2 separate regions of the Homo sapiens genome follow, and region 1 is linked to region 2. Evidence: fine-mapped expression QTL. A gene starts in region 2. The other region holds a variant in brackets. All regions are shown on one strand. Distances are between the middles of the regions. Region 1 overlaps SERTAD3 (SERTA domain containing 3). Region 2 holds the start of PRX (periaxin).

Evidence for each region. PIP is the estimated chance that this variant, and not a neighbour inherited with it, causes the effect.
Region 1: its variant is fine-mapped to the expression of PRX in naive CD8 T cells (Schmiedel 2018, PIP 0.95). The same link has a PIP of 0.9 or more in Th17 cells.

What each region holds. Positions count from the first base shown.
Region 1 is chr19:40,426,293-40,441,074 of GRCh38, reverse strand. It overlaps SERTAD3 (SERTA domain containing 3), which reads left to right. Exons shown (of 2, transcript NM_203344.3): 2 at 1-231. Among named protein-coding and RNA genes, the nearest start is that of SERTAD1, 7.7 kb to the right of the region's middle. RefSeq lists a cis regulatory region at 5,509-5,773, a silencer at 6,852-7,141 and enhancers at 7,252-7,331, 7,007-7,835. The variant ATAGT/T (reference allele first, on the strand shown) is at 4,944.
Region 2 is chr19:40,403,239-40,418,319 of GRCh38, reverse strand. It overlaps PRX (periaxin), which reads left to right and starts at 4,942. Exons shown (of 7, transcript NM_181882.3): 1 at 4,942-4,982; 2 at 9,937-9,980; 3 at 10,064-10,162; 4 at 10,289-10,414; 5 at 14,458-14,614. The coding sequence starts at 10,388. RefSeq lists enhancers at 3,484-4,132, 7,649-8,240, 8,153-8,322, 8,241-8,834, 10,061-10,190 and 1 more and silencers at 13,671-13,720, 14,631-14,800.

The DNA.
Region 1 (14,782 bases), 23 kb before region 2:
AGGGGGTGGGAGGGGCTGGTGTCCTCCCTCCAGGCTGAACCCCACTTCCTCGGCAGGACCCCAGTCTCAGCAGCCTCCTGATTTCATAACCAGGCCGGACCACGTGCAATAGGGTGGAAACCAAACTGCTCCATGCCGGGTTATTTAAAAGAAAGGCAGAGTTTGTGGTGGCTTTTTTTTTTTTTTTTGGATTGTTTGTAATTTTTTTAAATAAAAGTATTTTGGAAGGAGGGATGTTGTCTAATGTTTCTAAACTTCACTGGGTCAGTGGGAGGGACCTGGTAAGTTCCTAAACATCAGCACCACTTCCGTGCCATAGCTGGGGTAGGTGTATCATTGTACATGACATTTATTGAGTGCTTGTTGGCTGAGTGCTCTAGCTCCCACTTGGAATCCTAGCACTTTGGGAGGATCTGCTTGAGGCCAGCCTGGGAAATGTGGCGAAACACTGCCTCTACAAAAAATACAAAAAGGAGCTAGGCATGGCGGCCTGTAGTCCCAGTTACTGGGGAGGCTGAGTTGGGAGGATCACCTGAGCCTGGGAGGTTGAGGCTGCAGTAAGCCATGGTCACACCACTGCACTCCAGCCTCAGAAAAAAATTAGTGCTTGTTAAGAGCACTGTTCTAGCCACTTTATTTGAATTAAGTCTGTTAATCCTCATATAGAAGTAAGTACTGTTACCACTTTTTATACAGGAGGAACCAGAAGTTTAGAGAGGACAAGTCACTTAATTCAGAGCCACACAGCTAGGAAGAACAAGGACCAGGGAGCTAGGCTGAAATGGCCTCCAGAGCCTTGTCCTTCACTATTATAAATGTTGCTTCTTAGACTAACCAGCCACGTGGGTGGGCACAGGAGGGAGAAACTGAGTCACACGGAGTATGTGTCACTGAATGTGCTGCTGAGCCCAGAGGGGCAAGAAAATGCCCAAAGACCCCCAGTACTAAAAGACCTCTTTAGGAGAGTTGGCTAGGAAGCAGAGCCCAGATTAGATTTATAGTGCTAATGCTTTTTTTTTTTTTTTTTTTTTGAGACGGAGTCTCACTCTGTCACCCAGGCTGGAGTGCAATGACAGGATTTTGGCTCACTGCAACCTCCACTCCCGGGTTCAGGCAATTCTCCTGCCTCAGCCTCCCGAATAGCAGTGACTACAGGTGCTTGCCACCACGCCCAGCTAATTTTTGTATTTTTTTTAAAATAGAGACAGTTTCACCATGTTGGCCAGGCTTGTCTCCAACTCCTAACCTCAAGTGACCCGCCTGCCTCAGCCTCCCAAAGTGCTGGGATTACAGGCATGAGCCACTGTGCCTGACCTGTGCTGATGCTTTATTTCGGAGGTACGAGCCCAGGCTGCTGAGATACAGGAGAGGAGAAGGAGGTGAAGGAAGTGAAGGAAGAGGTAATGTGATACCTGTACAGGCTATGCCTTTACAATGGTCTTTGAAGAGATGAAGCAAGTGAGCTACACAGCATTAGGGACTTTTCTGGAAGGGCTGCGAGGAGGAACAACACCTGAGTATAGTCCATGGGTGGAGAAAGGATGGGGATTTTGCTTGTGGTTTCTGGGTCAAAGCCAGATTTCTCAACCTGAAGGGGTCATTGTCAGAAAGTGGAGGGATAACCTGAAGAGGTGGGTGCCAATCCAGAGAGAGGAATGAGGTGGCCCAGAGGATCTAAAGAAAGCAACCAGGTACAGGCCAGGCGCGGTGGCTCAGGCCTGTAATTCCAGTACTTAGGGAGGCCAAGGCGGGAGGATTGCCTGAAGTGAGGAGTTTGAGACCAGCCTGGCCAACATGGCGAAGCCCTGTCTCTACTAAAAATACAAAAAATTAGCTGGGCATGGTGGCAAACACCTGTGGTCCCAGCTACTCAGGAGGCTGAGGCAGGAGAATCACTTGAATCCAGGAGGCACAGGTTGCAGTGAGCTGAGATCATACCACTGCACTCCAGCCTGAGTGACAGAGCGAGATTCCATCTCAAAAAAAAAAAAAAAAAAGCAACCAGGTGTGATACTTGCTGTGGAATTGTAAAAAATAAAAATAAAAGGTAAGCAACCAGGTCTGCATCCCAATATGATGGCAATTGAATCATGTCTTCCTCCTTGAAACCTTCAGTGCCTTTTTTTTTTTTTTTTTCTTTTGAGACAGGGTCTCTGGCTCTGTCGCCCAGGCTGGAGTGCAGTGGTACAATCACAGCTTACTGCAACCTCCACCTCATGGACTCAAGCAATTCTCCCACCTCAGCCTCAGCCTCCCAAGTAGCTGGGACTACAGGCACGTGGACCACACCTGACTAATTTTTGTATTTTTTGTAGAGATGGGGTTGTGCCATGTAGCCCAGGCTGGTCTTGAACTCCTGGAATCAAGCGATCCTCACATCTCAGCCTCCCAAAGTGCTGGGATTACAGGCATGAGCCACCACGCCCAGCCTCCAGTGACTTCTTGACACACTCAATAAAGCGCCAGCTCCACCAAGACCTGCAAGGACTGACTTATTCTCACTTCGGACAACTTTCTCAGTTCCATCTCCCACTCTCTCCATCACTCAACTGGGCTCCCTTGACCCCAGCTCCTTCTCACCCCAGGGCCTTTGCCCTAACTGTTAAATTTTCCCAGTGGACATTTTCCCCAATAGCTTCACCAATCCCAATATCCCCTTCTCAGGGAGGTCTTCCTTGCCCTTCCTAGCTCAACACATCCAGGTGGGTCACCACCCCACCACAACTTGTTTGATTTTCTTTCTTTCTTTTTTTTTGAGATGGAGTCTTGCTCTGTCTCCTAGAATGGAGTGTAGTGGCATGATCTTGGCTCACTGCAGCCTCTACCTCCCAGTTCCAGCAATTCTTCTACCTTAGCCTTCCGAGTAGCTGGGATTACAGGCACATGCCACCACACCTGGCTAATTTTTTTTTTTTTTTTTTGACACGGAGTTTTACTCTTGTTGCCCAGGCTGGAGTGCAATGACGCGATCTTGGCTCACCACAACCTCCGCCTCCTGGGTTCAAGTGATTCTCCTGCCTCAGCCTCTCGAACAGCTGGGATTACAGGCATGCGCCACCACACCCAGCTGATTTTGTATTTTCAGTAGAGACAACGTTTCTCCATATTGGTCAGGCTGGTCTTGAACTCCTGACCTCAGGTGATCCGCCCGCCTCGGCCTCCCAAAGTGCTGGGATTACAGGCATGAGCCACTGCACCTGGACTGATTTTGTTTTAGTAGCATCTACCCAATCTCGAGTTACTTATTTCCCATCTATAGGTAGCCTCCTACTCTCCTGGGAACTCTGAGGGTTGTGTTGGTCTGTGCCTAGAACTATGCTTGGCACAACTGCACTCTCCAAAATTATTTGTTGTTGAAGGGTCAGGCACGGTAGCTCACGCCTATAATCCCAGCACTTTGGGAGGCCAAGGCGGTCGGATCACCTGAGGCTAGGAGTTCGAAACCAGCCTGACCACCATGGAAAAACCCTGTCTCTACTAAAAATACAAAATTAGCCAGGCGTAGTGGCACATGGCTATAATCCCAGCTACTCAGGAGGCTGAGGCAGGAGAATCACTTGAACCCAGGAGGCGGAGGTTGTGGTGAGCTGAGATCGTGCCATTGCACTCCAGCCTGGGCAACAAGAGCGAAACTCCATCTCAAAAAAAAAAAAAATTATTTGTTGTTGAAAAACTTGGCCAGGTGCAGTGGTTCACGCCTGTAATCCCAGCATTTTGGGAGGCTGAGGCAGGAAGATCGCTTGTGTCCAGTTCAAGACCAGCCTGGGCAACACAGGGAGACCCCATCTCTACAAAAAACTAAAATAAAATTAGCTGGGCTGATGGCATGCCCTTGTAGTCCCACCTACTCAGGAGGCTGAGGTGGGAGGATCGCTCGAGCTCAGGAAATGGAGGCTGTGAGCAGAGATAACACCACTGCACTCCAGCACTCCATCTGGAACAGAGCAACAGAGGGAGGTCCTGTCTCAAAAAAAAAAAAAAAAAAAAAAAAAGGCCGGGTGCGGTGGCTCACACCTGTAATTCCAGCACTTTGGGAGGCCGAGGCGGGCAGATCACGAGGTCAGGAGATTGAGACCATCCTGGCTAACACGGTGAAACCCCGTCTCTACTAAAAATACAAAAAAATTAGCCGGGCGAGGTGGCGGGCACCTGTAGTCCCAGCTACTCGGGAGGCTGAGGCAGGAGAATGGCGTGAACCTGGGAGGCGGAGCTTGCAGTGAGCCGAGATTGCACCACTGCACTCCAGCCTGGGTGACAGAGCAAGACTCCGTCTCAAAAAAAAAAAAAAAAAAATGAACTCCAGACCTAGCAATGACTAACTTTCCCTCCCACCTTTCTGAACTCATCTCCCCTACACACCCTCACTCTTATACTCCCACCACACCATTCCCTGCTGTTCCTCATATACACCATATTCCAAACTGAAGGATCTGGAGTAATACCTGCCTCACACTGCAAAGTGTCAGGGAGCCTGAGGCAGGCCAAGGATTCCAATAATGGCTCAGATTTATTGAGTGCCTGCTGTGGACCTGGCACTCTTCAGCAGGAAAATAAATAAAATAGACAATTCCTGCTCTCATGAAATTTAACAGTGGGGGAAGAGTGAAATACACATGAAAAATAATGCCAGGCATGGCAGCACGTGACTATGAGCCCAGTAACTCAGGAGGCTGAGGCAGGAGGATTATTGGAGGCCAAGAATTCAAGACCACTTTGGGCAACATAGCAAGACCACATCTCTAAAACAATTTTAAAAAAAAATTAGCTGGGCACGCTAGTCCCAGCTATTCAGAAGACTCGGGTGGGAGGATCCCTTCTTCAGCCCAGGAGTTGGAGGTTACAGTGAGCTGTGATCACAGCACTGCACTCCAGCCTAAGCGACAGAGTGAGACTCCCACTCCAAATAGATAGATAGATAGATAGATAGATAGATAGATAGATAG[ATAGT/T]TAGTTAGATAGGGCCGGGCGCTGTGGCTCACACCTGCAATCCCAGCACTTTGGGAGGCCAAGGCGAGTGGACCACCTGAGGTCAGGAGTTCAAGAGCAGACTGGCCAACACAGTGAAACCCCCTCTCTACCAAAAATACAAAAAAATTAGCTGGGCATGGTGGCCGGCGCCTGTAATCCCAGCTACTCCAGAGGCTGAGGCAGGAGAATCGCTTGAACCTGAGAGGTGAAGGTTGCAGTGAACTGAGATCAGGCCACTGCACTCCAGCCTGGGCAACCAGAGTAAAATTATGTCTCAAAAATAATTAAGTAAATAAAAAGAAAAATAAGGCCGGGTGTGGGGGCTCACGCCTGTAATCCCAACACTTTGGGAGGCCAAGGTGGGTGGATAATTTGAGGTCAGGAGTTCGAGACCAGCCTGGCCAACATGGTAAAACCCCATCTCTACTAAAAATACAAAAATTAGCTGGGTATTGTGATGCACACTTGTAGTCCCAGCTACTCAGGAGGCTGAGGCAGGAGAATCACTTGAACCCGGGAGGCGGAGGTTGCAGTGAGCCGAGATCACACCACTGCACTCCAGCCTGGGTGACAGAGCAAGACTCTGTCTCAAAAAAAAAAAAAAAAAAAGAAGTGAAAATGTGTAAGTCAGCCAGGTGGTGATAAATGCTGTGGGGGCAGGGGGGAGCAGAGGAGTGAGGAGGGTGTTGCAATTTACATAGGATGGCCAGATAGGGCGTCTGAGACAAGGTGACATTTGGGTAAAAACCTGAAGAAGGGCCAGGCACGTTGGCTCACCCCTGTAATCCCAGCACTTTGGGAGGCCAAGGCAGTCAGATTGCTTGAGCCCAGGAGCTTGAGACCAGCCTGGGGTAACATGGCAAGGCCCTGAGGTCCTGTCTCTACTCAAAAAAAAAACCAAAAAAACAAAAAAAACAAAAAAACTGGGTGTGGTGGTGCTCACCTGTAGTCCCAGCTACTAGTGAGGCTGAGGTAGAAGGATCGCTTGAGCCCATAATGGGCAGAGGTTGCAGTGAGAGGAAATCCCACTGCTGCACTCCAGCCTGGGCTACAGAGCAAGACCCTGTTTCAAAAACAAAAACAGGTAGGGCGCCCTGGCTCACTCCTACAATCCCAGCACTTTGGGAGGCTGAGGCAGGCGGATTACTTGAGGTCAGGAATTCAATACCAGCCTCGCCAACATAGTGAAACCCCATTTCTACTAAAAATACAAAAATTATCTGGGCAAGGTGGCAGCTGCCTGTAATCCCAGCTACTCCGGAGGCTGAGGCAGGATAATTGCTTGAACCGGAGAGGTGGAGATTGCAGTGAGCTGAGATGGGGCCACTGCACTCCAGCCTGGGCGACAAGAGCGAAACTCCGTCTCAAAAACAAACAGGCCAGGCGCGGTGGATCATGCCTGTAATCCCAGCACTTTGGGAGGCCGAGGCAGGCGGATCACGAGGTTAGGAGTTCGAGACCAGCCTGGCCAACATGGTGAAACCCCGTCTCTACTGAAAATTAGCCGGGTGTGGTGGCGGGCGCCTGTAATCCCAGCTACTCGGGAGGCTGAGGCAGGAGAATTGCTTGAACCCGGGAGGCGAAGGTTGCAGTGAGCCGAGATGGCGCCACTGCACTCCAGCCTGGGCGACAGAGCAAGACTTCGTCTGGAAACAAACAAACAAACTTTTTGTTTAAAAAGTGAGCCACCGTGCCCCGCCCTCCCCCTTTCCCTGCAGCTCTCTGCCTGCCCTGAAGATAACCCTGGGAAGGGGAATCGCACAGTTCCTTAGCACCGCGATGAGGCCAGTAAGAGGAGCACCCTCTTTCCAGATGAAAAAACTGAGGCTCCGAGAGGCCCAGCGCCTTCCTTAACACCGCACTTGTTAAAAAGAACTGGCCACAGAAGTGGAAAGGCTGGCCCTGCAGAAGGAACCGAGTCCCCGAGGGCAGTGTCCACGTTCCCCAACCTGCCCTCCTCCGCGGCGGGGGATGGGCCCGCGGCCCGCCCTGGGCGTGGCGGGAAGGCCCAGTCCCTCCCCGCTGCCCACCCTCCGCCCTGGGCCGGCCGGGGTACCCGGGAGGCGGCCGCGGCCGGGAGCCGGCCTGGCGCCTCCTCCCTCCCCAGAGGCCGGACGGGGCGGGCCGCGCCTCCCGACCCCCCTCCCTGCCTCCCTCCCCAGCAGGCGGAGGCTTCTCTCCAGGCCTGCCGGGCCCGGTGGCTTCGCCGATGGTTTCATTTCCCCAGGCCCGGCCTCTCCTCTTCTCCCTTCCCCCAGCCTTTGAATTCCTGGCTCCGTCTCCATTTTCTGGCCCCAGCTCCAATGTCAACGCCTCGAAGAATCTCTCTCTAGGACCACCCTGGTTACAGGCGATTATCCCGTCTTATTTTGTTTTCTTCAAGTCACTGAACGGAAACGGAAATTATTTTTCTCATCGATTCATCTTCCAGGGTCTTCTCATCCCGCTCGGAGTAAAAAACAAAGGTCCACAGAGTAGGCTAAAAGGCCTCACTTCTCGGACCTCCTTCCCGGCAGCTCCCAGTCCAGCTGCCCTGGCCTTGTCTCCTGACAGGCAGCACTTCAGAGCCTTTGCACTGGCTCTCGCCTCTGCCTGGAATGCTCTTCCTCTAGTTTTCCTACCTCTCTCATTTGTTTTGGTTTGTTTGTTTTTTGAGACAGAGTCGTTCTCTGTCGCCCAGGCTGGAGTACAGTGGGGCGATCATAGCTCACTGCAGCTTCAAACTCCAGGTTCAAGTGATTCTCCTACCTCAGCCTTCCAAGTACCTGGAACTACAGGCACGCCCGGCTAATTTTTTTGTTTGTTTTTGTTTTTGTTTTTTGAGATGGCAGTGGCACCGTCTCGGCTCACCGCAACCTCCGTCTCCCGGGTTCAAGCAATTCTCCTGTCTCAGCCTCCCGAGTAGCTGGGACTACAGGCGCCTGCCATCACGCCGGGCTACTTTCAAAACAAAACAAAACAAAAAAACCACACAAATTATCTAGTACCTTAGGAGCAGGTAATTGCAAAGGAAAAGAAAAAAGCAGACCGGGTGCAGTGGCTCATGCCTGTGATCCCAACACTTTGAGAGGCCCAGGCGGGTGGATCACTTGAGGTCAGGAGTTCGAGACTAGTCTGGCCAACATGATGAAACCCTCGTCTCTATTAAAAAAAAAAAAAATTAGCCGGGCATGGTGGCAGGCGCCTGTAATCCCAGCTACTCGGGAGGCTGAGGTAGGAGAATTGCTTGAATTCAGGAGATTGGAGGTTGCAGTGAGCTGAGAGATGTGCAGCTTTGGGGAGGAGGATGTGTTATGTCTGAAGAGGTGACAATTCAGCAGAGACCTGATGAAACAAAAGAAGTAGACCCGGCGGCCAGGTGGCTCACTCCTGTAATCCCAGCACTTTGGGAATCGGAGGCATGAGGATCACTCGAGCCCAGGAGTTCAAGACCAGCTTGGGCAACATGGGGATACTCTGCTTCTACAAATAAAAAATTAAAAAAAAACTGGCCAGACGTGGTGGCTCATGCCTGTAATCCCAGCACTTTGGGAGGCCGAGGCGGGCGGATCACCTGAGGTCAGGAGTTCGAGACCAGCCTGATCAACATGGCGAAACCCCATCTCTACTAAAAATGCAAATTAAATTGATTTAATTTGCTGTCTTTTTTTCAATTTTTGTTGTTGTTGTTGTTTAGATTGTTTTCTTTTCTTTTTTCGGACAGAGTCTTGCTCTGTCACCCAGGCTGGAGCGCAGTGGCACGATCTCGGCTCACTGCAATCTCTGCCTCCCGGGTTCAAACAATTCTCTTGCCTCAACCTCCCAAGTAGCTGGGAGTACAGGTACTTGCCACCACACCCGGCTAACTTTTGTATCTTTAGTAGAGATGGGGTTTCACCATGTTGGTCAGGCTGGTCTCGAACTTCTGACCTCAAGTGATCGGCCTGCCTCGACCTCCCAAAGTGCTGGGATTACAGGCGTGAGCCACGGCGCCCGGCCAAGGTAATTTGTTTATTGTTCATCTGCTCCCATAAGAGATTTTCATCTATAATTTCACTGCCCTTTCTTCAGTGCCTATAACAGTGTCTGGCACACAAAAGGGGCTCAAGACATAAATGTTTGCAAATCAATGAATGCATTCGTTTTCATATATATTTTCTCTCTTCACCTCCTACCCTGTTCCATGAGAGGGGAGACTCTGTGAAATTTACCCAGTGCTGTATCCTCACCATCTACAACAGTGGCCACCACATAGTAGGTGCTTAATAAATATATATTAATCAGATGATTCCTCTGAGCTCTTGTTCTTGTTTTTTGTTTTTTGTTTTTTGTTTTTTTTTTTTTTACAGAGTCTTGCTCTGTCGCCCAGGATGGAGTACAGCGCAGCAGCAGCCTGATCCTGGCTCACTGCAACCTCTGTCTCCCAGGTTCAAGCGATCCTCCCACCTCAGCCTCTGAAGCAGCTGAAACTACAAGCATGAAGGAAAATTTCCTTTTCCTTCAGTGTATGACCTGGAGTAAGCCACTGGGAGACTCCAGGTCCAGGCGTCCCTTTTGCCAGCCATAAAAATGGATTCTGGAGGGCAGAAAATGTGAATTTGCCTAGTGGGGGCCTGGTTCTAATTAGCATCTTACCTTAATTTTATTATTAAAAATTCAAGCACATAGAAAAGATGGGGAAAAAAAGTATTCTGAGCATCTGAATACTATCTCACCTAGATTTATTTGATAGTTGTTGGACAGGGAACAACTATAATCCCAGTACTTTGTGAGGCCAAGGCAAGAGGGTCACTTGAGTCCAGGAGTTCAAGATCAGCCTGGGCAACATGGTAAGATCTCATCACTACAAAAAAATTTAAGAGCCAGGCGTGGACCGGGCATGGTGGCTTATGCCTGTAATCCCAGCACTTTGGGAGGCCGAGGCAGGCGGATCACCTGAGGTCAGAAGTTCAAGACCAGCCTGACCAACAGGGAGAAACCCCGTCTCTACTAAAAATACAAAATTGGTCAGGCGTGGTGGTGCATGCCTGTAATCGCAGCTACTCGGGAGGCTGAGGCAGGACAATTTCTTGAACCCAGGAGACAGAGGCTGTGGTGAGCCAAAACTGTGCCATTGCACTCCAGCCTGGGCAACAAGAGCGAAACTCCGTCTCAAAAAAAAAAAAAAAAATACTCGTCCCATAAACTGGCAATGAGACTTAACCTTCTTCAAGTAGCTCATTTGTTAATTCCTGAGCTGTGGGAAGAGCTTTTAGTTTTGAATAAAGCTCCTGGCCAAAGTAAGTTCTCAAAAATGCTAACTATGGTAGTTAATTCAGGCAGCAATTGTCAATGAATGCTCAAACAGTTGGGTGAAAAGTTAGTGGAAAACAGGATCTTTTGGGGTCTCACTCTTTCACCCAGGCTGGCGTGCACTAGTGCAATCATGGCTCACTGCAGCCTCAAACTCCTGGGCTCAAGTGATCCACCTCAACCTCCCAAGAAGCTGGGACTGCAGGTGCATGCCACCATGCTAGGATAAGTTTTTAAAAACAGTATTCTGTAGATAGTGCCACTGCACTCTAGCCTGGCGACAGAGCGAGACTCCGTCTCAAAAACAAACAAAACATAAACAAAAACCAGTATTTTGTGGAGATTGGGTCTTGCTGTGTTGCCCAGGCTAGTCTCAAACTCCTGGGCTCTGGCCAGGCACAGTGGCTCATGCCTGTAATCCCAGCACTTTGGGAGGGCGAGGTGGGTGGAGTTCGATACCAGCCTGACCAACATGTTGAAACCCCGTCTCTACTGAAAATACAAAAATTAGCCAGGCATGGTGGTGCACGCCTATAATCCCAGCTACCCAGGAGGCTGAGGCAGGAGAATAGTTCAACGCGGGAGGCGGAGGTTGCAGTGAGCTGAGATTGTGCTACTGCACTCCAGCCTGGGTGACAGAGACTCCATCCCCCCCCCCAAAAAAAAAAAGCCAGATGTGGTGGCTCACGCCTGTAATCCCAGCACTTTGGGAGGCCAAGGTGGCTCATGCCTGTAATCCCAGCACTTTGGGAGGCCAAAGTGGGCAGATCACCTGAGGTCAGGAGTTTGAGGCCAGCCTGGCTAACATGGTGAAACCCTGTCTCTACTAAACATACAAAAATTAGCCAGGCATAGTGGCATGCACCTGTATCCTAGCTACTCAGGAGGCTGAGGCAGGAGAATCCTTGAACCCGGGAGGCGGAAGTTGAAGTGAGCCAAGACCACGCCATTACACACCAGCCTGGGCGACAGAGCAAGACTCCATCTCAAAAAAAAAAAAAAAAAAAAAAAAAACTGGCCAAGTGCGGTGGCTCACGCCTGTAATCCCAGCACTTTGGGAGGCAAAGGCGGGCGGATCACGAGGTCAGGAGATTGAGACCATCCTGGCTAACATGGTGAAACCCCGTCTCTACTAAAAATACAAAAAAAAAAAAAAGGAAAAAAAATTAGCCGGGCGAGGTGGCGGGCACCTGTAGTCCCAGCTATTCAGGAGGCTGAGGCAGGAGAATGGCATGAACCCAGGAGGCGGAGCTTGCAGTGAGCCGAGATCGTGCCACTGCACTCCAGCCTGGGCGACAAAGTGAGACTCCGTCTCAAAAAAAAAAAAAAAAAAATCACAAAACCTCCTGGGCTTAAGTTCCCGCCTTGGCCTCCCAAAGTGCCAGCATTACAGGCATGAGCCACCACATACATCTTGGAGATAGGATCTTCACAGGCTCTAAAGCATCATCCCAAAGGTTATTTGCTAACTAGAAAGGATAAATTTATTTTACGATGTAACCCTCACAATCTTAATCACGTGATGAAACTCTGCATTACCAATGGTGGGACATCCTGACACTGGTGCCAACTACTATAATGCGTTAGGATTAGGAAGTACATTAATAAGGATTAGGACACACCCTGTGGAGTCTCCCTGTTCACTGCATAAGCAGAATCTCACCAGGCCCCTAGACCCAACCTCCAGCTTATTGGAAAAAGAGAGGAACAAATTAAACACAGTCAGACAAATCCAGAATGTGGGACACTATGCAGCATGACTAGTCTGTTTTGCCAGAAATTCAATGTCAACAAAACATCAAAAAGGATTTGAGGCTGAGTGTGGTGGCTCATGCCTGTAATCCCAGCACTTTGGGAGGCCAAAGCGGGTGGATCACCTGAGGTCAGGAGTTTGAGACCAGCCTGGCCAACATGGCGAAACCCTGTCTCTACTAAAAACACAAGAAAATTAGCCAGGCGTGGTGGCGCACGCCAATAATCCCAGCTACTCGGGAGGCTGAGGCAGGAGAATCACTTTAACCCGGAAATGGAGGTTGCAGTGAGCCAAGATCATGCCACTGCACTCCAGCCTGGGCGACAGAGCAAGACTCTGTCTCAAAAAAAAAAAAAAAAAAAAAAGGGATTTGGGTGGGGGAATATTCGAGAATAAAATATAGTATGTAATTTCTTCATTACAACCAAATTAGCATGTGAACCTTCATTGGATCCTGATTTTGGAGAAAAGAAAGCAACTATAAAGGATATTCTTGGGTCAGTTGGAGAGATTTGATTAGGTGATATTGTGGAATTCTTGATTCTATTAGATGTGAAATAGTATTTTTGTGGCTTGTACATGAATGTCCTTATTCTTTTTTTTTTTTAGGTGGAGTTTGCTCTTGTTGCCCAGGCTGGAGTGCAATGACGCAATCTCAGCTCACTGCAACCTCCACCTCCTGGGTTCAAGCAATTCTCCTGTCTCAGCCTCCTGAGTAGCTGGGATTACAGGCACATGCCACCATGCCCGGCTAATTTTTGTATTATTAGTAGAGACGGGGTTTCATCATATTGGTTAGCCTGGTCTCGAACTCCTGACCTCCGGTGATCCACTCGCCTTAGCCTCCCAAAGTGCTGGGATTACAGGTGTGAGCCAACGCACAGGGCCTAATGTCCTTATTCTTAAGAGATGCCTCCTGAGCTGTTAAGGGTAGAATATCAAGATGCTTGCAATTACTCTCCAAAGGTTTAGCAAAAGAAACAATATATACACATATGTAGATAAAGGGAACTTAGCACAATGTTACCAACTACTACTTTTTTCTTTTTTTTTTTTTTTGATACAGGGTCTTGTTCTGTTACTCAGACTAGAGTGCAGCGGCATGAACATGGCTCACTGCAGCCTTGACCTCCTGGGCTCAAGGAATCCTCCCACCTTAGCCCCACAAGCAGCTGGGACCACAAGAACATGCTACCACGCCTGGCTAATCCTTTTTTTTTTTTTTTTTTGAGACAGAGTCTTGCTCTGTTGCCCAGTCTGGAGTGCAGTGGCGCTGTCTTGGATCACTGCAACCTCTGCCTCCTGGGTTCAAGCTATTCTCCTGCCTCAGCCTCCTGAGTAGCTGGGATTACAGGCGCCTGCCACCACACCTGGCTGATTTTTTGTATTTTTAGTAGAGACAGGGTTTTACCATGTTGGCCAGGCTGGTCTCGAACTCCTGACCTCGTGATCTGCCCACCTCGGCCTCCCAAAATGCTGAGATTACAGGCGTGAGCCACCACGCCCGGCCCACGCCTGGCTAATTCTTAAATTTTTTTGTAGTGATGAGATCTCACTGTGTTGCCCAGGCTGGACTCAAGTGAACTCCTGGACTCAAGTGACCCTCCTGCCTTGGCCTCCCAAAGTACTGGATTACAGTTGTTGCCTAGCTAACAACTATCAATTAAATCTAGGTGAGAGAGTATTCAGGCGTGAGCCACTGCATCCGGCCATGGGAGGAGTATTATACCCTGTCTACCTCTAGCCCCATCCTGCATGTCTATCCACCTTGAACTAAGAGCTTGTCTTATTACAACAGCTATTACTACTAACAAAGAAACAACGTTGCTAACCAGGCATGGTGGTGTGCGCCTGTAGTCCCAGCTGCTTGGGGGTCTGAGGCAGGAGGATGGCTTGAACCTGGGAGGCTGCAGTGAGCCGAGATGGCACCCCTGCACTTCAGCCTGGGTGACAGAGCGAGACCCTGTCTCAAAAGCAAAATAAAATAAAATAAAAAGTAAAGAAAAAAATAATAAGCAGCTGGGCGCGGTAGCTCACGCCTGTAATCCCAACACTCAGGGGCCGAGGAGGGCGGATCACCTGAGGTGAGGAGTTTGAGACCTGCCTGGCTAACATGGTGAAACCCCATCTCTACTAAAAATACAAAAATTAACCGGGCGTGGTGGCGCACGCCTGTAGTCCCAGCTACTCGGGAGGCTGAGGCAGGATAATTGCTTGAACCTGGGAGGCGGAGGTTACAGTGAACCGAGATCGTGCCCCTGCACTCCAGCCTGGGCGACGGAGTGAGAATCTGTCTCAAATAAATAAATAAATAAATAAATAAAATGAAAAAAAAAAAAAAAACACAAAACATGTTGCACCCCACTCTGAAGATTTTTCATGAATTAATTTAATCCTTAAAAACAATCCTGTAAACTAGGCGCTATTTTCTCTCATTTTAAAGGAGAAACAGACCAGAAGGGATTAAAACACTTGCCGCAGGTCACACAGCTGCTTAGGGAATGGAGCCCGGGATGTGATTCCGTTGGTATCGCACTCCCACCTCACTCCCGCCTTTAACCACAATTAAGTCCAACTGTCCAGCATTGCTTGAGTGTGGTATTGTGTTCTTATAGATACGATCCTACTTAAAGTATCCTGTCAAGAGGTAGGCAAGACGATCCCCATTTAACTTTGTGTAGCTTGAAGAGGTTGATCATTTTTCCAAGGTCACGCATCCAGTGAGTGGGGAATCCGGAGTCGGAATTTGAACCCGGGCATTATCTGTAGTGTAGACCCCTGTCGGGGCTG
Region 2 (15,081 bases):
AAGAAAGGAAAGAGAGAGAAGAAAAAAGGAAGGAAGGGAAAGAAAGAAAGGAAGAAAGAAAAGAAAGAAAGGAAGAAAGAAAGAAAAGAAAGGAAGAAAGAAAAGAAAAGAAAAGAAAAGAAAAGAAAAAAGAGTTACCGCTCTGTGGCTGTGTGACTCTAGGCAAGGTACTTAACTTCTCTGAGCCTCGGGGTCCTCACCTGTAAACTGGAACAGTAACAGTATCTGCCCCAAAGAACTATTGTTCTGGTGGGCAAGGAAACAGCAAGGGTCACTGAGAGAGAGACCCTACAACATTTTCAGGGATCTCTAAGCTGCTGGGTTTGGCTGGAAGGAGGAGGAAAGCAGTAAGGTAAATGACAAGACTGGAAGGGTCCGCAGGGGCCAGGGCATATAGGACCCTGGATGGGGGACTTAACTCTGAAGATGCTGGGGAGTCATGAAGTAAAAGGATCCCTTCACTAGGTGGGTGGCATCGTCGGGGAGGTGACACTGGAGGCCAGGAGCCCAGGATCCCAGGGGTGGAGAATCTGGGGAGGGACGGAGCAGCTGTTGGGAGGGAAGAGGCACTCAGGAGGCCCAGCAGACAGGCTGTGGGACTGACAAGGCCTGGAGGAGGGGTCTCAGACCAGGCTCAGGGCTCTAATCAGGGGACTGGGAGACACTGGGGCCATCCCTGAGATGGCAACTGGGGAGAGAAGCAAGTCTGGGGTTGGGGCTGAGGCCAAGGAGGGACCCAGGGGGTGCAAGAGGCTGGGGAGACACCCAGGGGAAGGCATGGAGCTGCCCGGGCCCTGGGCCGGGAGCTCAGGAGAGAGGACTGGGGTGTGGGGGTGGGCGTGAACGGTGGGATCGAGGGAGACACCAGTGTCCCTTGGCTGGACTGGGTGGGGCGGAGTGGCTAGGCCACGCAGGGCAGGCCAAGGCTCCTGCTTGGCTCAGACTGAGTCTGGAGAGGGTGGTCCCTGAGAAGAAGCGTCCACCTCCTTCCCTAGCCTCACAGGATGTCCTGTGTTTACTGCGGTGGCCACAGCCGGAACCAGGACACTGGGGCCACCCCCAACTTAGCTTCCCGTGGCCACACCCCCTTGGGTGAGGGAAAGCATGACAGAGAGAGAGGGAGAGAGAAACGCACAGACAGAATGAGACAGAAAGAAACTAGGAAAGAGAGACAAAGAATAAGGACAGAGAGAAACAGAAGAACAGAGAGACACAAAGATAGAGACACACAGAGAGACACACCATTCGTGATAAGAATTCACAACAGTCCAGGTGTGGTGACTCATGCCTGTAACCGCAACAGTTTGAGAGGCCAAGGCGGGTGGATTACCTGAGGTCAGGAGTTCAAGACCAGCCTGGCCAACATGGCGAAACCCCCATCTCTGCTAAAAATACAAAATTATTGCTTCTTGGCCTTTTGGCTAAGATCAAGTGTAAAATACAAAAATTAGCTGGGTGTGGTGGTAGGCGCCTGTAATCCCAGCTACTCGGGAGGCTGAGGCAGGAGAATCTCTTGAACCCAGGGGGCGAAGGTTGCAGTGAGCCGAGATTGTGCCACTTTGCTCCAGCCTGGGTGAAAGAGCGAAAACTCTGCCTAAAAAAAAAAAAACAAAAGAAAAATTAAAAAAAAGAAAGAAAATAACTCACAGCAGGCCAGGCACAGTGGCTCATGCCTGTAATGTCAGCACTTTGGGAGGCCAAGGCAGGAGGATCGCTTGAGGCCAGGAGTTTGAGGCCAGCCTGGGCAACATAGTGAGACCCGCATCTCTCAAAAACAAGAAAACAAAAAACTCACAGCAAACTAGGGAAAGAAGCTTCCTTAACCTGATAAAGCGTATCTACAAAACATGGACCGCTAACTTCCTACTTTATGGCAAAAGGTTAAATGCTTTCCCCTAAGACTGAGAACAAGCAAAGATCTCTGCTCTCTGCGACAAGGGAAGAGAGGGGATGTTGTGTACCAGCCTCCCTTTTCTGTTTGACCCTGAGCAGAGAGAGGGGGATTTTCTTCCCTATGCTAGCCTGGCTGATAGCTCAGCCTCTTTCTGCCTTCAGGTACCTAAAAGCTCAGTGCTATTCATACTTTGTCCCTCTGATAGCTCTTCAGGGCCCACAGGACAAAGTCTGAGGCCCTCCTCATGGCCCTGCTGACCCCTGGACCTCCTCTTACCTTTCCCTCACACTCTCACCTTAACCGTTTTCTCAAAGGGCCTTTGCACAGGGTGTTCCCGCTACCTGAAACACACTGTCATTCCTTCACCACCCATGGCTTTGGGTTAACTTCTATATATCCTCCAGGTGCAAGCTCAAATGCCACTTCCTCCAGGAAGCCCTCCTTGATTTCTCTTCCTAGGCTGGGGCAGCCACCTTTTCTGGACTTCCCCATCAAGGCTTTGACCTCTCTGCCTATGATTGCCCCATCACAACCCTCCTCTTTCTGGGTTTGTTCCCTGCTGGACTGTGAATGGTGTGGATGCAGGCCTGAGCTGTCCCAGTCACACTGTGTCCCCAGCACCATCCAGCCTGGGACTGGACAGAAGACCAGGTGCTCACTGAATGTTTGCTGATGGTGAATGAAGACCCGCTCCATTTCTCACCTCTGGTCCTTTGCCCACATTTGTCCCTCTGCCTGGAACCCCCTTCCCTCCTTTTTTCCTTAGCTCCCTCCTCCTCAATCTTCCATTTTGACTTCCTTTTATTATTTATTATTATTTTCTTTTTGAGACAGAGTCTCGCTCTGTCACCCAGGCTGGAGTGCAATGGCGCAATCTTGCCTCACTGTAACCTCTGCCTCCTGGGTTTAAGCAATTCTCCTGCTCAGCCTCCCGAGTAGCTGGGATCACAGGTGCCCGCCACCACGCCTGGCTAATTCAGTTTGACTGCCGATATCACCTCCTGCAGGATCCTTTCCTGAGTTTGCCGCCTCCTCCCTGGGGTGGAGTTAGATCTGTTGATGTCCCCTGTGCCCAGCAAAAGACCTACCACTAAACAGGGCTTGTGAGTGTTTGTTGAATGAATATAGGAACAAAAGAATGTTTGCGTGAATCAATGAAGGAGAGAGACTGCAATGAAGTGAGGGTCTCCTCAGGCCCATCGGGAGCCCCGACCATACCATCCCTTCTACCCCTCCTGGGAGGAGGGCTCTGGCTGGCTTCTGGCCACACCCCAATGCTTGGTTGCTGCCAGGCCTGGAAGGCATTTCCCAGAGCTCAGCACATTCCTGCCTTCCCCGGTGGCTGAGAGTGGGCAGGGGGCATTTCAGAGAGAAGGGAGGGAGGCCCCCAGCATTCCGGGATCCTGCCATCCTGGCCTGGTCCCCCACGCCCTCTGAAGTAGGCCCCAACCCTCTGGTGTGAGATGGGGGACAGGTCTGCAGAGGGGCCACCCAGGCTGGTGTGAGGGGCGAGGGTGCCGACAGAGGCCAGGGCTTGGTGTCTGTGCCTGGCTGGACAATGGGGCAGAAGCTGCTGACATGCGCTTTGGGGGTAATCCCCCAGCCTCAGCCCAGCCCAGGCCTGGGGCCTGGGTTCAGAGAGCGACGAGCTTCCGAGGCAGCAGCCGGGTGGGTTCAAGTGGCATGTGGGGGTACCTGTGCTCCCTGTGCCGCCCCCCGGGGTCTGGTGAGTCAGGGCAGGCTGGGGGCTGGACCAGGGTCCAGGGGTTGGGGGTGAGGCCTGGTAGCTTTGGCTTGGGAGTCGGGCAGGTCTGGGTTCAACTCTGGACCCCTGCCAATGACCTGCTATGGTGATATTGGGAGAGTCACTTACCTTCTCTGAGCCTTCTGGTCTGCAAAGTGGAAGGGGCAGAAGAGTGTAGCAGGGTTTTTGTGGTCCAGGAGAACAGGGGTTGGACCTCAGCTTCACCACCTCCTGGCCACATAGCTATAAATTGGGCATAGCTGGACGCGGTGGCTCACGCCTGTAATCCCAGAACTTTGGGAGGCCGAAGTGGGAAGATCGCTTGAGCCCAGGAGTTCGAGACCAGCCTGGGCAACATGGTGAAACTTTGCCATTACAAAAAATACAAAAATTAGCTGGGCATGATGATGCATACCTGTGGTCCCAGCTATTTGAGGGGGCTCAGTCGGGAGGATTGCTTGAGCCCAGGAGGTGGAGGCTGCAGTGAGCCATGATCACACCACTGCACTCCAGCCTGGGCAACAGAGTGAGACCTTGTCTCAAAAAAAAGGGTGGGGAGCATAAGGAGCCCATTTTACACCCTTGATTCAAAAGCAGGGCTTCAGCACTGAGCATGGTACTTAGTATGTGATAGGTGTCCCCCTAAACAGTAACTCCATTAGACAGAGAACTGGGGGTCCCCTGTGCCCAGCCTTACTGAAAAGGGGCCAAAACCCCCCAGCAAGATGAGCCAGCCACCTAATTTGTGTGAAAAATAATACCAAATACTTATTAGTAACCCTCATTATGTGCCCGGCATTGTCTTACATTTTCAGTCTCTTTTAACTCGTTTAATCTTCACCACAGCCCCATAAGGTGGGTACTCTTACTATCCGCAAAGAGAAGCTGTGACTGGCAGCAGGTCACCCAGCGAGGAAGTGGTCGCGCTGCGATTTGAACCCAAGTTGACAGGGAGAGGGAGTGAAAGGAGTTTACAGTAGAGGCAGTTGGCCAGGCCCGGGTCCTGGAGCCAGGAAACAGTGGGGCTGGGGTGGGGTCCTGATTCTCCAAGTCGAGGAAGCCAACGTGCAAATCCTTGAAGCTGAGCTCATGGCAGAGATCTCGGCCCAGGCAAGAGAGAGGCGGCTGGTGGCTGTCCCGTGGCCCCCACCCCTTGGGGATAGATGTAGCTGGAGGAGGGGGATGTTTGTTTCTCCACCACCCACCCTCTGGTGACGTCACACCCCCGCAGCCAATGGCTGGGGTCTCTCTCTCCTCCCCCCTCCCCATTCCTTTTCCCCCCCAGCCTAGGGCTAGGGCTGACAGACGGGACCAGGAGCTCTCGAGGTGTCTGGAGGCTCAGCGGTAAGAGATCAGCCGGCCGGTCCCTTCCCTGGCCAGGCTGAGACACTGTGGGAATGAGGTTCAGGGTCCCGGGAGGTGCTGGGAGGGGGCCTGGGGGCTCAGGAAGCCGTGTGGTGTAGGTGTTAAAGGTATAGACTTTGGAGCTGGTGGTTCAAATCCCCTTTCCTCTCCTTTCTGGCTGTGCAGCCTTGGGCAAGATACTTCATCCTTTGTGCCTCTGTTTCCCCATCTCTAAAATGGGCTGATGTCTGGAGGCCACCTCACAGGGCTGGTGCCGAGTAAATGAGTTGCTGCTTTTAAAGAGCTAGGGCAGCCAGGCATGGTGGCTCATGCCTATAATCCCAGCACTTTGGGAGGCTGAGGCGGCAGGACTGCTTAAGCCCAGGAGTTCGAGACCAGCCTGGGCCACATAGAGAGGCCCCCATCTCTACAAAACAAAAAAAAATTTTTTTTAATTAGCTGGGCATGGTGGTGCATGCCTGTGGTTCCAGCTACTCTGGAGGCTGAGATGGGAGATTGGGTTGGGCCCAGGAGGTTGGGGCTGCAGTGAGCCGTGATCACACCTCTGCACTCCAGTCTCAGTGACAGAGGGAGACCCTGTCTCCAAAAAACAAACTAACAAACACCAGAGCTGGGGCAGGAGGCCTGGGGTGGGTCCCTGGAGTAGGGTGCTAGGGAGGCAGCATGGATCCTGTTGGGAGGCTGGTGCCTGAGCTGGGTTTTGTCTCTCAGCCAAAGCTCCCCTTTGGTAGCAGAGAAAGTGGGGGCCACTGAGGAGCAAAGGTTGGATGTGCAACACTGTGAGAAGCACAGCTCCCTCCCTCCATACTCTCCCTGTTGCTGTCAGAGACGAGTTTATATTAATCAAGCATTTACTATACAGGAGGGATATTCTAAGCACCTGCTGTTCTCTCACAAATCTTCAAAGCCTTTCTTATTGGCTCCATTTTACAGATGGAGAAACTGAGGCCCCAGAGATGAAGGATCTTGCCCAAGTCCTCACACCTGGGAAGTGCTGGAGCAGGGACTAACCGAGGCAGCCAGAGGCCACTGCCTTAACTCCCCCTGACCCCCTAGGTGGCCTCAGATAATGTTTAGAGGTCTGGATGAGTCAGCCCAACCCCTGACCCCCATTGCTATGAGAGATCACGCTGGTGGCGGGGGAAAGCTGAGGCTCTGAGCAGGCAGGGTTCCCAAGTGAAGTTGGTGGCAGTCACCAGGGAAAGAGGGCCAGAAGGGCAATGCCCTCAGCCGATCCCTCAGCAGCCTCCGAATGACAACCCCTCGCTCCCAGCTGCTCTGAAGGGCATAAGTCGCATCTGAAATGGATATCTCAGTTGTACCCACTCCAGGGAGATGTTACAAAGATTTAAGGAGCCAAGACAGGAAGGATCTTAGCACACAGTAGGTGCTCAAGAAATGGGGACCCTGGGGATTCTGAAAGTTCTGGCATATGCCAGGGTCATGCCACAGTAACTACCCAAGAAATAGGCTGCTGGCATCTGGAGTGTCTGCCTGGTCCCAGTGGATCTGCCTCTAACACAAGGCAGGGACCCTCCCCAGGAGCCTCCCCACCCCTCTTTCCCCTGCCTAGTGGGATAGGCAGAGCTGGGAACACAGAGTCCTCTCTGTGGGTTTCCTTCCGAAGCTGCCCCCACCTTACCCCAGGGGCTGGGTACGTGGCTCAGGAAGAGCACAGTTGGGCTAAATATAACCTGGGCTGGGTGCCTGTCCAGGCAGGGACGAAGAAGGAGGGCACTCTCTCTTGTCCCTGCCCCGCCTGAACTTCCTGTGCCAGGCTCCGGGCATGACCCTCACAGCCACGGGCCTGGGACAGAGAGCTGATGACCCAGGAGACCCCCTCTACTACCACCTACAAGGTTCAGGCTTCTCGTGTCCCCAGCTCAGGACTCTGTGCTGTGTATCAGTCCTGGGTAAGGGAACTGAGTTCGCTTTCACACCTGGGCTCAAGTCTCGACTCTGTCACTGTGATCACCGGTCTCTTAACTCTCATTGACTCATCAGTTAAATGGGGTCCCACAAGGTCAAGTATGTAAAGCGCCTGCCCGGTCCAGGCCCGGCACCTGGCCTGGGTGTGTTTCTAGCACCGTTGGCCCCCTCCTGCCCAACCCAGCTCCTGCCCCAGTGCGCAGAGCCACCAATGCAAATTAAGGTGAAGCAGGGGTGAAGGGCAGGCACGGGTCCTAGCTCTGCCCCTTTCTGGCTGGGTGACCCCTCTGTGAGCCTCAGTTTCCACCCCATAACAGCCACAACATCTAGGGTGATTTTGAGGCCTGTGGGTGCTAGCACAGGGCCCAATTCAGAGGAAATGCCCCAGACATGGCAGACAAGGTCTTAGTGCAGGGACCAGCTAATATTAATACTAACCACTCAATACCCATCAGTTGTTATTATGATTGTCCAGCTAAAGCGCTGGAGCTTTTTTTATTTTTATTTTTATTTTTTTGAGATGGAGTCTCGCTCTATCGCACAGGCTGGAGTGCAGTGGTGCATTCTCAGCTCACCACAACCTCCGCTTCCCAGGCTGAAGCGATTCTCCTGCCTCAGCCTCCCGAGTAGCTGGGATTACAGGCGCGCGCTGCCACGCCTGGCTAATTTTAGTATTTTTAGTAGAAACGGGGTTTCACCATATTGGCCAGACTGGTCTCGAACCCCTGACCTCGTGATCCACCCACCTCGGCCTCCTAAAGTGTTGGGATTACAGGCCTAAGCCACGCGCCCAGCCCGTGCTGGAGTTTTTAGACAAGTTCAAGTCCTGGCACAGCCTGGAAGGTGTAGGGGGCTCACAGGGGATCCCAGGGAAGGCCACAGAGACCAGGACCCCCTAGGAGATGCAGAGAGAAGCCCTCTTACACTGTGGGGGGCGTGGGTGCTGTGGGAGTGTTAAGGGGTCCCCATGTCCTCTCTCCTGGCCACTGATGGGCTATGAAAGGCCATTGTGTGGCCAGGGTGGGTGGGCAGGGGCGGAATGCAACTGAGCACAGCAGACGGGCCATTGTGTGAGGGAATGTGCCGCGTGAGGCCTGACCTTTCCCTGTGCAATAGGGGTTGGCGGGTTGGCATGCCAGGTGGGGGCTGTGAGGACAAGCCCAGAGTCGGGGGTTGGGGGAGAGAGTATTCATCTCCATTTCCCCAGATGGGCCTGGCGGGTGGCTGCATGTGAATTTCAGCTTTGCCTCCTTCTGGCTGTGCTATGAGGCCTTGAGCAAGTTCTTTTGGCCTCTCAGGAAATGGGGTTTTCCGAGGTGAAGTAGAAGGTGAAGGTCTTAGCACGGGGGCCAGCAAATACTAATCACTCAGTACCCATCAGGTATTATTACTACCCAGATAAAGGGCTGGAGCCTTCAGACAAATTCAAGTCCTGGCTCGACCATTTGTGACCTGGGCTAGTGACATCCCTTCCCCCAGCCTCAGGTGTCTCCTCTGTAATGGGCTCAGTAGTAGCTGATTGCACAAGGCTGTGCTGAGGGCCATGTGCAGTGGAGCATGTGGGGCGCTCGACACAAGGTCAGGGCCATAGGAAGTTCTTAGTAATAATAATGGCCTGACAGGTGCAGTGGCTCATGCCTGTAATCCCAGCACTTTGGGAGGCTGAGGCAGGTGGATCACCTGAGGTCAGGAGTTCCAGACCAGCCTGCCAACATGGTGAAACCCCATCTCTACTAAAAATACAAAAAGTAGCCAGGCGTGGTGGTGGGCACCTGTAATCCCAGCTACTTGGGAGGCTGAGGCAGGAGAATCACTTGAACCCAGGAGGCAGAGGTTGTAGTAAGCCGAATTCGCACCACTTCACTCCAGCTTGGACAACAGAGCGAGACTCTGTCTCAAAATAATAATAATAATAATAATAATAATAATAATAATAGCAAGTATTTATAAAGCACCTGCCAGGTGCCTGGCACTTTACACTTATTAACTCATTTGAGCCTCGGAACAGCCCTGCGAGGTAAAAGCTCTTATTCTCCACATTTTATAGACAACATAACTGAAGCACAGAGAGGAGCTGTGATTTGCTCACTGGGAGTACATGGGAGTGGCTATAATTATTTTATAGCATCAAGAGGCTGAGGCAGGAGGATAGCATGAGCCCAGGAGTTGGAGCTCAGTTTGGGCAACCTAGGGAGACTCCATCTCTACAAATTAATTTAAAAAATTAACCTGGTGTTGCCAGGTGTGGAGGCTCATGCCTGTAATTCCAGCACTTTGGGAGGCCAAGGTGGGCTGATCACTTGCAGTCAGGAGTTCAAGACCAGCCTGGCCAGCATGGTGAAACTCCGTCTCTACTAAAAATACAAGAAATAGCCGGGTATGGCGGTGCGTACCTGTAGTCCCAAGGTGCGTGCCTGTAGTCCCAACTACTCGGGAGGCTGAGGCGGGAGAATCACTTGAACCCAGGAGTTGGAGGCTGCAGTGAGCCAAGATCGCGCCATTGCACTCCAGCCTAGGTGACAGAGCAAAACTCTCTCTCTCACACACACACACACACACACACACACACACCACCAACAACAACAAAAACGTAGCCGGGTGTTGTGGCATGCACCTGTGGTCCCAGCTACTCGGGAGGCCAAGGTGGGAGGATCGCCTGAGCCCAGAGACCGAGGCAGCAGTGTGCCGTGATTGCACCACTGCACTCCAGCCTGGGCAATAGAGCTAGACCCTGTCTCAAATAGCAATTATTTTTTAGTGAATTTGGCCCCCTCAGTTGGCCAAGATCTTTGGCACGGGGGCTCTGCTGCCAGACAGGCCTCGGAGTCAGTTTTGGCTTTACCGTGTGTTGTCCAGCTGAGTCATCCTGGGTAAAGGTCTTCTGAGGCTCAGTTTCCCACCTGCACGACGGGGATAGGGTATCAGCAGAACGCAGCAGGGTCAGGCACTCAGGAAGTCATCGGTGGCTGTTAGCCAATAACACTGCTCACATTATTCTTCTTAGAGCGCCGGACCCAGGAGGCCCAAGGAGCTGGAGGTGACCCTCAGGTGAGCGCAGGCTGGTGCCATATGCCCCTCCCCACCCCTTCCTCGCCTGCCTGGAGCTTCACATCCTGGCCTTTCCCTGGCAGGCAGCAAGAACCCCACGGAAGGGCGTGAGCCCTGCAGACAGCTGTGCGGCACCTCGGGCTGGGCTCCTGTTAGGAGGAAGTGCCTGCACCCAGGCAGCGGTGAGAGGACAGCTGGGGTGGGGGCCCTTCTCCCCTTCTAATACCCACCCTGCTTTCTCCCTGTAAGCATGGCCTCCACCTCTCGTCCCCTACTGGCCTCAAGCCTCCACTGCTGTCCTCCCACAGGCTCAGAGGCAGCTGCTCCATGCAGAACTGAAGCTGGTTCTGCAGCAGAAAGGGGAGAGGACACAGGAGCCTGGGGTGCAGGTGCCTCCCAGCAACGCCATGGAGGCCAGGAGCCGGAGTGCCGAGGTGAGTGCCCACGTGTCCTGCAAGGCGCACTTGAGGGCAATGGGGAGGCACAGACTAGGGCAGCAAGGAGACACTTTCTGGCCTCTCTGTGCCTCATTCTCTCCATCTGTGAAATGGAAATAATAACAGGGTCTATTTTATGGGTCACTGTGAGGAGAAGAAAATTAACATATGTAATGTCCTTAGTGCAGCATCTGGCACAGGCTAAGACTCAAGGCAGTGAAATCACTGGCGCACAAAGGAGCTAAATTAATAAGGAGCTGAAGAAAATCCGGCAGAAACCCTTCATCAGAAGAGGCAGCATATGCCAGGTGCAGTGGCGCAGGCCTGGAATTCCAGCACTTTGGGAGGCCGAGGCAGGAGGATCGCTAAAGCCTAGGAGTTTGAGACAAGCCTGGGCAACATAGGAAGACCCTGTCTCTACCGGAAAAAAAAATGAGCCGGGTTTGGTGGTGCATTCCTGTAGTCCCAGCTACTCAGGAGGCTGAGGTGGGAGGATCACCTGAACCCAGGAGGTTGAGGTTGCAGTGAGATATGATTGAACCACTGCACGCCAGCCTGGGTGAAAGAGCAAGATCCTGTCTCATTAAGTCTCCTGTGTGGAAAGAATAAATGAGAAAAACAAAGAAAAAAAAAAAAAGACCCTGTCTAAACACACACACACACACACACACACACACACACACACACACAAGGGCATATAATGTAGGAGTTAAGGACATGGGCTTGGACCCATGGCTCAAATCCCAACCCTACCACTTCAGCTGTGTGGCCCTGGGCAGATGATCTCACCTCTTTCAGCCTCAGTTTCCCACTGAAATGGAGGTAATGGGGCTGGGCGCAGTGGCTCACACCTATAATCCCAGCACTTCGGGAGGCCAAGGCGGGCGGATCACTTGAGGTTAGGAGTTCGGGACCAGCCTGGCCAATACGGTGAAACCCCATCTCTGCTAAAAATACAAAAATTAGCCGGGCATGATGGTGCACACCTGTAGTCCCAGCTACTCGGGAGGCTGAGGCAGAAGAATTGCTTGAACCCAGGAAGCGGAGGTGGCAGTGAGCCGAGATCACACCATTGCATGCCAGCCTGAGGGTCACAGTGAGACTCTGTCTCAAAAAAAAAAAAAAAAAAAAGAAATGGAGGTAATGATCTCCACCTCTGAGAACTCCCGCTTGAGCCATTTGCACAGAGTCTGGTGCTGAGGAAGCCTCTTTGAATGACAGCTGCTGTCACTGTTACTGAGATGGTGGATTGGCATTGACCATGTCTTACTGTATACCAGGCACAGAGCGGGTCTACTGTTACAGGGGCCAAGCTGCTACTGGGGGCGAGAGGCAGTGGGTACAGCGCCAGGAGTTCTCTGCCCACAGGATGGCCTATGAGTTCTGGGGTCACAGACCTAAGGTTGAGGCCCAGCCGCTTAACTTGCTACAGGGCATTAGGCAAGTCACTTTACCTCTCTGGGCCTTAGTGTCCTCCTCTGTGACTGCCCAAGGCTATAGGGAGAGGATGAAATGAGATCCTGCAGACTGCATTCGATGGCTCACACCTGTAATCCCAACACTCTGGGAGGCTGAGGCCAGAGGATCCCTTGAGCCCAGGAGCTGGAGACCAGCCTGGGCAAAACAAGACTCCGACTCTTTTTTTTTTTTTTTTTGAGACGGATTCTTGGTCTTGTCACCCAGGCTGGAGTGCAGTGGTGCGATCTCAGCTCACTGCAACCTCCGCCTCCCAGGTTCAAGCAATTCTCCTGCCTCAGTCTCCCGAGTAGCTGGGATTACAGGCGCCCACCACCACGCCTGGCTAATTTTAGGACTTTTAGTAGAGATGGAGTTTCGCCATGTTGGCCAGGCTGGTCTTGAACTCCTGACCTCAGGTGATCCTCCCGCCTTGGCCTCCCAAAGTGCTGGGATTATAGGTGTGAGCTACCGCGCCTGGCCTGACTCCGACTCTTAAAAAAAAAAAAGAGGCCGGGCGCGGTGGCTCATGCCTGTCATCTCAGCACTCTGGGAAGCTGAGGCGGGTGGATCATGAAGTCAAGAGATCGAGACCATCCTGGCCAACATGGTGAAACTCTATCTCTACTAAGAATACAAAAATTAGCTGGGCGTGGTGGCGTGCACCTGTAATCCCAGCTACTCGGGAGGCTGAGGCAGGAGAATCGCTTGACCCGGGAGGTGGAGGTTGCAGTGAGCCAAGATTGTGCCACTGCACTCCCAGCCTGGGTGACAGAGCGAGACTCCGCCTCAAAAAAAAAAAAAAAAAAAAAAAAAAAAAAGAGATTCTGCACATAAAATGCTGAGCCCAGGGCCTGCTGAGCCAAAGGGCGGTACTGGTGGTCATGCTGTTCCCTACAGTCCCAGCCACAACTCTCCTTACCCAGACTGCCCTGCTCAGCCCCCTAGTCCCTTGGGGCCACTGCTGTGGGGCATCTGGCCTAGACCTGCTCTCCCTCCAAGTCCTGGGCTCAATTCCAGTCCGTGCTGGCCCCAGTGCGTTGGCCATGACAGTGTCCTCTCAGATCCCTACTGCAACCTCCTTCCAGTATGCCTATGTTACCCTATTTTGCAGCAGGGAAGTGGGTCCAGAGAGGGCAAGATTCTTCCTAAGACACACAGCAGATTGGATTCCTAGACAGGATCCAGGTTTGTCACTGCCTCTTCTGGGAAGCCCTATTGTGAATCCCATAGTGGCTTCTGGGCCAGGTCCAATCTGCATCATTTACAGTAAATACCGGGAATGCCATGTCTCCCAGTCCCATTCATTACCCACGCAGACCCCCTTCACTGGATTCCCTCTCCTGTGGGCGTTTCACAGGTCTTCGGGTCATTGAATTTACAATAGAGCACATTCTCACACACATTCAAGCCTGCAGGGAGGCAAATCCCACTCCCTGTCCCCCCAATCCCAGAGGGCTTGAAGGTCCAGCCAGCCCCTTCCTCAGAATCCCATCCTCAACTATTCTCTTGTTCTGCTGTAATTAAAGCCCCTCCCCCATAGTTAAATTCAGTTTGTAGAATATGGGTCTCCGGGCCAGATGCAGTGGCTCATGCCTGTAATCCCAGTGCTTTGGGAGGCTGAGACAGGAGGATCTCTTGAGGCCAGGAGTTTGAGACCAGCCTGGGCAACACAGTGATACCCCTGTCTCTTAAAAAAAAAATTAAAAATTAGCTGGGCGTGGTGGCGCGTGCCTATGTTCCCAACTACTTGGGAGACCGGAGCGGAAGGTCTGCTTGAGTTTAAGGAGGTGGAGGCTGCAGTGAGCCATGATCACACCACTGCACTCAAGCCTGGGGACAGAGTGAGAGACCCTGTCTCCCCCAACAAAAAAATAATAAGGGTCTCCGCCCCAGCTCCAAATAACCTCCCATAAACTCTGGCCACATTCCTCTCCTATCTTTTGCACCCTTCTATACCCCATTTGGCTCTTCCTCTCAGGCCTGTGTTGTCTTACCCCTCCTACCCGCACCAACCCCCCCCAGCCCCGCCCTCCCGACCTGACCACGCCCCCACGATCCTGGTCCCGCCTCTCAATCACAACTCAAGTTATCTCCAGCCCACTCCGACGCAGTCCCTCCCCTTACAACCCCGTCTCCTCCCCTAACCCCTTTCGGCTGCCGCTCCAGGGCCTCGGAGAGGCCAGCCGGCCCGCGGAGCTGTTTAACCGTTCCGCGGGTCCTAGAAAGCCAGCTGCCCTCAGGCTTGCTTAAAGGGGAGACGCCGGAGTGGGTGTGCCCCGACGTCCTGCGAGGGCAGCGCCGAGGGGCGTGTGCCCTGAAGGCCCGCTGAACAGCCGCTTTTGGCCGGGCGCGGTGGCTCACGCCTGTAATCCCAGCACTTTGGGAGGCCGAGGCGGGAGGATCCCTTGGGCCCAGGAGGAGTTCGAGACCAGCCTGGGCAGTGTGGCGAGACCGTCCCCCACCCCCGTCTCTAAATATATATAAACATATATATGTATATGAGCCACTGTTGAGCGCAATGGCGGGCTCTGGGCGAGGTCCGGCCCTAGAGCCCCAACGCGACACCTCGCCGCCCTCTGCAGGAGCTGAGGCGGGCGGAGTTGGTGGAAATTATCGTGGAGACGGAGGCGCAGACCGGGGTCAGCGGCATCAACGTAGCGGGCGGCGGCAAAGAGGGAATCTTCGTTCGGGAGCTGCGCGAGGACTCACCCGCCGCCAGGAGCCTCAGCCTGCAGGAAGGTGGGCGGGCCCGGGGTGTGGGGCGGGGTCGAACTGCGGGGGCGGGGTTAGGAATCTGCCTTGGGTCCAAAGAGAGGCTGAAACTGACCGGGGGATGGGGGCGTGACCGGCGACCAGGAGGGGTTAAGGGCTTGGGGCGGGGCTTTGCTGACTGTTCACAGCAAATTCCGGAGGTTCACTGTCTGGGTGCGAATTTCACATCCCCCGTTTACTAGCTTGTGATCTTTCTGTGCCTCAGTTTTCTCATCTCTGAAATGGGACTTATTCTAGTATGGGGTTATTATGTATTGAGGATTTAACGAGTCAGTATGTGAAAACACTTAGCACATAGCTAAGTGGCACATAGTGCTTAACTATGTGAGTGCTAGTAAATGTTTTTGTTGTTGGGGCAGGAGAAAAGGGTGGAGTGAGCCACTTAGAGGGGTTGGGAAGAGTAAAGGATGTTTTAGGATATGGATGAAGCTGAC